2 separate regions of the Homo sapiens genome follow, and region 2 is linked to region 1. The links come from fine-mapping of genetic effects on gene expression. Tissue or cell type: whole blood. Region 1 holds a variant in brackets; the other region holds the start of a gene. Each region is shown on its reference strand, or each on the opposite one.

Region 1 (5,374 bases):
ATCCCTAAGCTTCCTTTCAATTATAATATTCTGACTCCAGGTTATCTCTAAGAAGAAAAGGCATCTAGTGGGGATCAGCAAGGATTAAAGCACAGTATTTTAAAAATGGTGTTGGCCAGATGTGATGGCTCACACCTGTAATCCCAGCACTTTGGGAGGCCGAGGCAGGCGGATCACGAGGTCAGGAGATCAAGACCATCCTGGCTAACACGGTGAAACCCCGTCTCTACTAAAAACAAAAAAAATTAGCCAGGCATGGTGGCCGGCGCCTGTAGTCCCACCTATTCGGGAGGCTGAGGCAGGAGAATGGGGTGAACCCAGGAGACGGAGCTTGCAGTGAGCCGAGATAGCGCCACTGCACTCCAGCCTGGGTGACAGAGCGAGACTCCGTCTCAAAAAAAAAAAAAAATACAAAAAAATACAAAAATTAGCTGGGCGTGGTGGTGTGCCTGTAATCCCAGCTGCTCGGGAGGCTGAGGTGGGAGAATTGCTTGAACCTGGGAGGCGGAGGCTGCAGTGAGCTGAGATCGTGCCGCTGCACTCCAGCCTAGGCGACAAAGCAAGACCCTGTCTCAAAAAAAAAAAAAAATGTTGTTACAGTTGTTTATGTCCCCATCTAAGGTTAGATGGAATCAAAAGTGGCAGGATCTTTAGGGGAGAGGAGAAGAGAAGTGAACTCAAACAAATTAAGAGAAAGAATGACCCAATAAAATTCTCCAATCACTCAAGTTTTGATGAAATCTGGAACATACTGGCCGTGAAGGCAAGCAGATAGGCGTAGTTCGGCCTATAGTCCTTTATGGATTGATTAGGAATCACCAAGGCTGATTCCAATCAAAACTGAAAGGTAAGTGAGAACACCAGGGGTCCTGCTCCCCCCAGCACCCCCTTGCCCTAGCATCTCCTTTTGCATCATTTTCCCCCACTTGGTGGTGCCCTAAGCCCAGTGGCTTAAGGTTATTAGCTCCTAATGTTACTGAAACAATTCAAATTTGTCAACAATGTTTTGCTTGAAAGAATTAGTGGAGTAGTGGAGTCATTTATTTTTATTTTTTTATTTTTATTTATTTATTTTTTTGAGACGGGGTCTCGCTCTGTTGCTTAGGCTGGAGTGCAGTGGAGTGATCTTGGCTGACTACAACCTCCACCTCCCAGGCTCAAGCAATCCTCCCACCTCAGCCTCCCATGTAGCTGGGACTACAGGCATACACCACCACGCCTGGCTAATTTTTATATTTGGGGGAGAGATAGGGCTTCGCTATTTTGGCCAGGCTGGTCTCAAACTCCTGGGCTTAGGCAATCTGCCCACCTTGGCCTCCCAAAGTGCTAGGACTGCGCCCAGCCTCAGAGTTATTCTTAAACAGTGTTTCTCTAGAATATCATCTCTAAAATGAGGCTATTCCAATTTTGACTGGGATGATCAGCCTGCACAATTTTTTCAACAGGTTTATAGACAATAAAAGGAGACCTTTCCTAACTCATTGCTGATGGCATACTGTAACTTTCCTTTAAAAGTTGCTTAGGCTGGCCAGGAGTGGTGGCTCACACCTGTAATCCCAGCAGTTTGGGAGGTGGAGGTGAGTTGATCACTTGAGGTTAGAAGTTCAAGACCAGCCTGGGCAACATGGCAAAACCCCATCTCTATTAAAAATACAAAAATTAGCCGACATGGTGGTGTGTGCCTGTAATCCCAGCTACTTGGGAGGCTGAAGCACGAGAATCACTTGCACCTGGGAGGTGGAGTTTGCAGTGAGCCGAGGTCACACCACTGCACTCCAGCCTGGGTGACAGAGTCTAAAGAAAAAAAAGTTGTTTAGGCCATAGAATCCAAACATTTCTTGACCTCAGTTTATATTCTGAGTCTTTGGAACTAAAAATGTTAGATAAGGAACACTGTAATGGGAGAACACTTATAAGAAAAATAAATTTCTATTTTTTAACTAACATATGTGATCAAATACCCACAAAAGGCAGAGAAAGGGGTTCCTCCCTGCTGATGGGGACAATGACTTCACTTCCCTTTACCTGACTGAGTATCCAGCATCATGACCACCCACTGCTCAGCTGTCAGCCGTGTGACAGAATTGTCTTTCATGATCCAGGAATCTGGGGCCTCTGCAAACACCACGCAACAGAAGGGCTCCACTTGAATCACACAGACATAACCATCCAGGACATCTTTTTGGTACACATTCAGGATTTTTGTAGTGAAATTTACCTTTGGCTTCTCACAGCAGAAGTGGAATGTAGGCAATTTTTCTATGCAGTTTTCGATTTCTTTTTTTAGTAAGTCAGGATTCACTTTTTCCCACTTACATCCAACCACTTCTTTGCTCTTATCATCCACCCCAATGAGGACATATCCCCCTTGAGTGTTGGCAAATGCAGAAACATAATGAGGCAGCATTTCCTTAATCCGAGGTATGACTTTTTTGGTGGTGAACCTTTTAAATTCAACATGTGTTGACTCAGTAAAGTTGAGTTTCTCCTTATACATGAGTTTGTCCTTTTTAAAAAATTCTGAGGCCAATATCCTCATATCTTCCTCTTCCTGAATGCATCTATTGAGAACCTGCTGAGGATGCAACTTCTTCACCCTTGGTCTTCCTCTTTGGGCTCTAAACCCCTTCTCTCTGAGAAGCTCCAGGGCACTGCTAGCACTCAAGTTGATAGCAGAAGTCACATCTCTCCGATACAAATTGGAGCGCAAGCTGCAAATCCTTAGTGGAAGGCTGAAAACATCTGGGCTCCATGACTTCACAAAAATCAGGAGATTGTGCCCCTGCTGCATGTAGTCAAGGTATTTC[T/C]GTGAACCTGAAGGAAGGAGCTTTTGAAAAGAAGTTTCCAAATCCTGTCCCAGCCCATGGCATTGGTAACTATAGGTTTTATCATCAATCTCTGCTTTGATCACACCACCTCCAGAATTTAACAGTGCACATATAGCCCGGATAATTCTAGAATTCTCAGATCTTTTCAAACAGCTGTTGGTCATCTTCTTCCTGTTTTCTTCTCCAAAAATCACTCTGCCCACATCTACTATTACCTCAGGATACGGCATTTCAGTATCAGTCTTGAGACTCTCCATTTCAGCAGCCCCTCTGTGCTCCAAACAATAAAAGAAAGGAGTTCCTATAATCAGGACAGAAATATTGTTTCTATATTAATAAGAATTCCAAAGATTACAATATTTTCTTCAAAACTATCAATTACTGGAGATATATTTTAATGTTGGAAGTCATCTCTCTCTATATGTATATTTGTTGTTGTTGTTTGTTTTGGGTTTTTTAGTTTTGTTTGTTTGTTTTTGAGATAGAATCTTGCTCTGTTATGCAGGTTGGAGTGCAGTGGCACAATAATAGTTCTCTGCAACCTCAACCTCCCAGTTCAAGTGATTCTCCAACTTCAGTCTCCCTAGTAGATGAGACTACAGACACGTGCCACCAAGCCTGGCTAATTTTTTTTTTCTTTTTTGTTCTTGCTATTTTTTTTTTTTAAGAGATGGAGTCTTGCTACGTTGCAATCCTCCTGCCTGGGCCTCCCTCCCAAAGTGCTGGGATTACAGATGTGAGCCACCGCACCCAACTGGAAATTATCTTTGATACTGCTGTTTTCTAATCACTTTGCCAAATATCCTTAGCCTTGCCAGAATAAGTAGGCATGGATAAAGGTGAATGCCTAATATTTGTCATAATGGAAAAATTAAATTGCTAACATTTTCAGCCATTTTGCATTTCAAATCAGGAAACGCCAACACTGAGCCCAGATATAAAGGGCATGGGTTGGCACAGGAGCCCAGGAAGGTATTGGAGAATATGCAGAAATAGAAGTTGAAGTGAGAAGATGCTCTTATTTATAATTCAAAAGGGGAAGAAAGGAAGGCACTAGAGAACTAAGGAAGTATAATTTTACAGTATATGTACTGTAGAAGATCTTGCTATAAACACAAACATAGGCTGGGTGTGGTAGCTCACATGTGTAATCTCAGCACTTTGGGAGGTGGATGTGAGAGGATTGCTTTCGATCAGGAGTTGAGACCAGCGTGGACAACATAGCAAGACCCCATCTCGACAAAAGATAAAAAAAAAAAAAATGTTAAACATTAGGCAGGTATGGTGGTGCGCACCTGCAGTCCCAGCTACCTAGGAGGCTGAGGTGGGAGGATCTCTTGAGCCCAGGAGTTTGAGGCTGCAGTGAACCATGATCGCACCACTGCACTCCAGCCTGGGCAGCAGAGTGGGAACCTGTCTAAAAAAATAAAAATAAAAGTAAATAAATAAAATTCTATATTTTTATGTATTATTTCATACACTTTGAAAAGCTTTATTTTACTCCTGAAAGAATGTCAGTTGATACCAAATGCAGAAACCTTTTCAACTCTTCACATGTTCTAAATCTCAAAAGTACATTGCCTCATATACAGTGTGATGTGACAGCAGCATTTTCCTTCCCTTCTAATAGTTCTGCCCTGTGCTGTGGAAACCCCTAAGACTTGGAAAAGAACATGAGCTTTTGGGGCATGGTAACTAAACCATTGTCACCCTTCTTTTGCTTCCTAGACCAGAAAACAGCCACCTAAACTGAAATTTGAGCTCTGAAACAAATATTTCAGAAAAGATCTGCTTACCTTTAGTCAATTGCAAAACAAAATATTTGCTAACTCAACCAAAATTCTTCCTCTAGGAGAAGAGAACCCATCTTTCTGTGTGATCTTTGCAAAGCAGGGGCCCTGTGGGCATTGTATATACTCACCAAGAGGAAGAAAGCAGGCATCCGGCAAGACATGTGCACTCCCCTGATATCAATTTGTTCTTGGTTGCCTTCTCACTTCCTTCAGGAAAACCAGAATCAACCTGGGGAATTCTTTTTAGAATGTGAGCCTCTTCTATAGGTACATGTAAATGTAGTATTTTATGGCTCCTTAGGGAAATTTCCCATAACATTCTATTTATATCATAGAATCACAGAAGTGTTGGAAAGGACTTTAAAGATCCTCCAGTCCAACAATCTATAGGATTCTAAAATCTCCTCTATAATATTGCCAACTCCCAACAAGTTGCAAACCTCCAGCAATGAGCAACTCACTACCTATCAAATAGTCCCTCTAGTCCCTTCTAATTTCTGACGTCTGTGTTAGAAATGGTCTCCTTACTTTAAGCTGCAATTTGTCTCCCCATAACTTCCACTGATGGGACCCACAAAACAAATCTAATTGATTTTGAATAGCAAACCCTATGGTCTCGTGACTCGTAAGTCTCATCAATGTTATTTGAATGCTGATAACAATTATGATAAATACAACATTTACTGAGATTCTAGCTCGAGATGAATATCCTTTCCACATTTCCCAGGACTTTTTTTTCTTTTTTTGAGACAG
Region 2 (5,374 bases), not on the chromosome of region 1:
CTGAGACATAGAGGTGGTTGGTGATAAATGTAGGTTACACGTCTGTCTCATTGTCATGATCCATATTATGTTTGACTGTGCATATGTTTGACTGTGCACATCCATCCATGTGTGGCTGCAAGTGGCGGTGTGTGTTTGTATACCTGATGGCATGTCTGTGTAAGTTACATACAGCCTGACTTAGCATCTGTCTGTTTCAGCCTGTAATAGGCGAGGGTCAGAATTTTCACATTCATTGAGATATATTCCTGGAACTTGTCTGTAAATCATTGTCATCCAGGAAGAGGTGTGTGAGTGAATGACTTTCTGTGTCTGCTCCTGTAATGAGGCACTTATTTTTAGCTGAGCCAGTGGGTGCCTGTTGATGAAATCGATGTTTATACTCTTCATCCCTATGGGTTTGTACCTGTCCCTGTTTATCTCTGCATATTTATCTACCTACATAAACAACTTCAAAAGCCAAATATTCTACTGTTTACCTCACATCCTCAGCTCTTTCCTTTCCTTCACCATTCTTTCTTATTTATAGCTTGTTTTCAGCAAGGAAAGCTGCTCTCATGAATAGCAAACCCCAGCCACACTGTTGATTGACAAATCTCTACAGATGGATAAGGATTACAGCATGATGGTTATGCAACTCAAGATCCCCTAGCCCATCTTTTCTTGTTTTCTTTTCAACTGGGGGTGCAGTAAGGCGGTGTTAAAAATGCAGGCAAGCTATTCCTTTGAATAAAAGCGGTATCTGGGATTTAGGTTTATAGGACTTCAGAGTTAGAAGGGTGCCTGGGAAATCATCTAGCTTAGAAACTCTATTTAACAGTTTGGGAAACTGCAGCCTCAAGAGAGGAAGTGTCTTTCCCAATGTCAGGCACTGGGAGTTAGAACACACTTTTTTTTTTTTTTTTCACCCTTGGCCAATGCTTTTCCTACATAGAGGGCACAACAGTCTTGGGAAATACACAAGAAGTTCCCCAAATCAAAATGAAGATAAACAATATTATGATTTTAAAATTTTTCCTGTCAGTACTTCTAGTAAAGGAAAGTTCTATACAAACCCCAAGATGATGGAGCTGCCAGGAAAAAAAAAAAAAAAAAAAGCTGAGAATGATTTCACTAGGTCTTTGGATGCCTTTAATCCATCAGTTCTAAAACCCTTTGCATTATGAGGGAATGCCACAATTCGCAAAGTGCTTCCCTGTGCATTATCCCATTTCTTCTACACACTATCTACCCCCTAGAGGTGGCTGCTGTTACTGTTCTTTAACTGTAGAGGGAATGGGGCCCAGAAAGAAGTATTAGTTCAAGGTCAAATGGTACCTTCAGGGCACAGCCAGAGCTAAAACCCAGGTCTTCAAACACCCTTGCAAGGAGATTATCATGGCCCAAGGCTTCCCCGGAATCCTGAGAGATCACAAGGGCAGGGCCTAGAATTTGCTGCAGGCCTTGAATTTGGGGGTGGGGTACGTTCAGACTGATGTTCTTAGAGGGTTTCAAGGGTCCCCTCCAGCCAGCAGGCAGAGACCCTGAAAAAAAGGTTACCGTGGCAACTCGCATTCCTCGGAGAGTGAGTCAGGCAGAGAAGAGCCTTCTGGTGGGTGGGACTTGGAGAAAGTTTCAAAAGTTGATTCCTTCTCCAGGCAACCCCCTTCTTCTCCTCCCTCCCCCTCTTTGCTCTAGGCTATGTCGATGTGGCAGCTGATAGCTGAGAGTTAACTCTCTCTTTCCTCAACCACTCCCTTTTCAGAAGGCTTCATCCTCCAGCAAATACACACATTTGTTACCAGTCCTCACTCCATCCCCACGTCATGCCCTCTAATCCATTTGAGAATATCTTAAAGCTGAAAGCTGTGACCACCCATATTCATCCTCTCTCTCTCTCTCTCTCCCTCTCTCTCTCACACACACACACACACACACACACACACACACACAGTGCATACAATTTTTAGGGGCTTAGAGATGGCTTGAGGCCCATTCAAAGACCACTCCATAGACCCTGGTTAAGAAATCTTCCTTTGAATATTTTAGAGGACACAAAGCACCCCAAAGAGCCTTCAGTTTCAGCCTTCTTTCATTACAGATGGGGCACTAAATCCAGGGGAGACACTTACCTAAGATCACACATAAAATGCATGCCCGAAGCCTGTGTCCTACTTCTGCTTTGCTTCTCACTAAACCACCAGCACTTGGGGCGTATAGAAATTTAACTCTAAAGCATTACTAGAGAAAACATTTTCTCTAATGAAAAAAATGCTGTCCTTTCCTGAGGAAAATGCATGCCTCTCTGTTCCCTTTTGGGCAGACTGGGAATCCTGGAAGACATAACTCATCCCAGTGCCCCCCTTCCCTTGGAGTCCTTGGAGTCCCTTTCCCTAAGGAAGTCCACTTGACAGCCAGTTCACGGAGCCAGTGGCGGCGAAGAAAGGTAGTGGATTTGTCTGAAGAAGAACTGACACCCTGACAGGCTGGACACTAGTCTTGGGTGGATTACGGAAGGGGACCCTGGAATTCTCTCCCTCTTCCCTTCCCCCTTTCCCCCTTCTGAGAATATCTCCCCCAGCACACTCCACCTCCCATTACACCCATGTCTTGGTTGACGATATCTGATGTCTGGGTTTTCAGATCTAGATAAACTAAGGGCTACTGCCTGTGTTTACCATCCCAAGGAACTCAGGACAGGAACAACACCTAACCCAAGACTGAGGTTGTGATGGTGCCATTTCAGGCAGAATGGTGCTGAAATTTGTGTATTGGGGGGACGGAAGGTGGTGTTTGGGAGTGAGGAGAATTAGAGGAAAACAGAAGGCTTCCCAGAGGTGTGGATTAATGGTGAAGCCTCCCCCTTTGCCTTTCAGAGATCAACTGATTGTTCGTGCAAAGTCCCTTTTGGAAAACAGAACCCCTGACCGAGATCTGGAGGACAGACTCCGGTTGCTGGCCAGGTCCCTGTGGCAGCTGTGATGGGATCAGATTCCCAGGAAAGGAGGAGGCTGCCACATTTGCAAAGGGAGCAAAGAGGACAGGCAGGCAGCCTCTGAAACCAGAGACAGACACAGAGAAAAACAGAGAGTGAGAAAATGCTCCCCCGAAGACATAGTGAGATTATTTTCTGTAAACCTGTAAGGGAAGACAAAGTTACACAGTGAGTCCACCTTCTGAAAAGCAACAGGCAGACAGGACCGAGGGCCATGCTCTTAAGGGGAGCCGTGATGGAGCCGGGAGGAGAGGCGCATCCTCAGCAGAGCTTCCCTCCCTTGCACACGAGCTGACGGCGTGAACGGGGGTGTCGGGGTTGGTGCAACTATAGAAGGGAAAGGCTGGGCGGGGGTCACACATACCTCAGTGGCAGGCAGGCAGGCGGCAGGCAGAGCGCGCTCTCCGGGCAGTCTGAAGGACCGCGGGAATGTGGAGGGGTTTAGAGACAGGCAACAGGAAACCACTCAGAGCTCTGGGCTGGGTCTATCTCCCCTCCACCCCGTGGTCCCTCCTCCTCCTGTCTCCTCCTTCCCCCGGCCTCCTCCTTCTCCCATAGCCAAAGCTGTCTCTGTCTTTCATTTCTTTCCTCCTCTTTTTGCGGTGGGCTGTCCTGACCAAACGTCCCAACCCTGCCTGCCTCATCTGTTCCGGGGCTGCTGCCTAAACCGACTCACAGAGTGCCAGGGCTGGACAGGCCTGGAGGGATGACCCAGAACAGCCTCTTTCTTGTTCAGAGGGCAAGTGAGGCCTGGAGACTGCAAGGAATTACCCAATGGCCCCCAGGGGCAGAACCAGGCCCAAGTGTCTTGATCTTCTAACCAGTGAGCTTTACAGGAGTCCTCCCTAATATTAGGCAATGCTGAGAAGGGCCAAGCAATTCAAGGGGGTTGTATTTGCCACAAAGGCAAGGCCAGGACTTACCACTGTACAGACAAGACAAGCTGCTACTAGTGGTATCATCCTTGATGATTTGGAACTGGTCTTAAAAAAAAAAATCCCACTCAAACTCCACTTGTACCACTAATAGACACATAAGGGATTAGACATCTAGCTGGTGGACCTGTGCCACCAGTATTGAACAGATAAGGTAATTGATGATATTGATGATAATCATAGGAGTAACAATAGCCAAAGTTTACTGAGGATTTAATAATCTTCACAGCAACCCCTTATCTTAGGCATTGTAATTATGACCATTTTAATAATAAGGAAACATAGATGCTAAGTAACTTGCCTATGATCACCTGGCAAAAAGTGGTATGAGAGGGCTGATTCTACGTTTCAACTTGGGTCACTCCTGTTATATATGAACTGCTCAGTGCAACAGGTCTTGGTTGAATGTTTATTTTGTGCCTAACACTCTGGGAGGTATGAGAATTAATAAATACCTGGTCCTTGTCCTCAAAAAGTTTTGTGGTTTCCGGTTTTTTTGTTTGTTTGTTTTGTTTTGTTTTGAGACAGAGTCTCACTCACTCTGTCGCCCAGGCTGGAGTGCAGTGGTATGATTTCGGCTCACTGCAACCTCTGCCTCCCGGGTTCAAGCAATTATCGCGCCTCAGCCTCCAGAGTAGCTGGGATTACAGGCGCACATGCCACAACACCCAGCTAATTTATTGTATTTTTAGTAGAAATGGGGTTTCAACATGTTGCCCAGGCTGGTCTCGAACTCCTGAGCTTGGGCAATCCGAATGCCTTGGCTTCCCAAAGTGCTAGGATTACAGGCGTGAGCCACCGCACCCAGCTTAGCTTTGTGGTTTCTTAAATTCTTTTTTAATTTTTTTAGACGAGTTAAGTGCAGAACTGAGAAGGGAAAAAAAGTACAAGGAATTCAATCTGTGACTGTGAACAATCAATCGAGATAACTCACTATTCAAGGAGCTTTGGATCTTGCTGAAAGGTTGTGCCTTACACATACACCCACTTACATGAGTGGTACAGACTCTAAGGCTTATCCCAGGGCTTCAGATTGGTGGATTCCTGAAAGAGGTGGACCTGGAAGCATGGGTTGGGTTTGAATACCATGGAAAGGAAGAAGGCAGAGAACACCCTCATGATACACTTCCATCCGCTGTGGCCCCTGTCTCTCTTGCCATTCTCTCCTCCTACCACTGTCCTCTGTGCCCACGCTGCTCCAGCCATGCCAACTTCCTTCCAGTCCTTCAACTACCCCAAAGCTTCTCCCACCCCAGGATTTTTTTTTTTTTTTTGAGACAGACTCTCACTTTGTTGCCCAGGCTGGAGGGCTGTGGCGCAATCTCAACTCACTGCAACCTCCACCTCCTGGGTTCAAGTGATTCTGCTGCCTCAGCCTCTCAAGAAGCTGGGATTACAGGCATGCACCACCACACCAGGCTAATTTTTGTATTTTTAGTAGAGACAGGGTTTCACCATGTTGGCC

The links.
Region 2: SPARC starts here. The variant in region 1 is fine-mapped to the expression of SPARC in whole blood (TOPMed, PIP 0.95).

Annotation. Positions count from the first base shown.
Region 1 is chr17:35,554,978-35,560,351 of GRCh38, forward strand. SLFN14 (schlafen family member 14) reads right to left here. Exons shown (of 6, transcript NM_001129820.2): 2 at 4,750-4,828; 3 at 2,026-3,129. The coding sequence starts at 3,085. LOC107985033 (a long non-coding RNA gene) reads left to right here. Exons shown (of 2, transcript NR_138032.1): 2 at 1-572. Among named protein-coding and RNA genes, the nearest start is that of SLFN14, 3.2 kb to the right of the region's middle. The variant T/C (reference allele first, on the strand shown) is at 2,808.
Region 2 is chr5:151,683,527-151,688,900 of GRCh38, forward strand. It overlaps SPARC (secreted protein acidic and cysteine rich), which reads right to left and starts at 3,389. Exons shown (of 10, transcript NM_003118.4): 1 at 3,339-3,389. CLMAT3 (colorectal liver metastasis associated transcript 3) reads left to right here. Exons shown (of 5, transcript NR_109873.1): 4 at 2,303-2,425; 5 at 2,856-4,384. RefSeq lists enhancers at 842-1,671, 2,500-3,329, 3,330-4,157.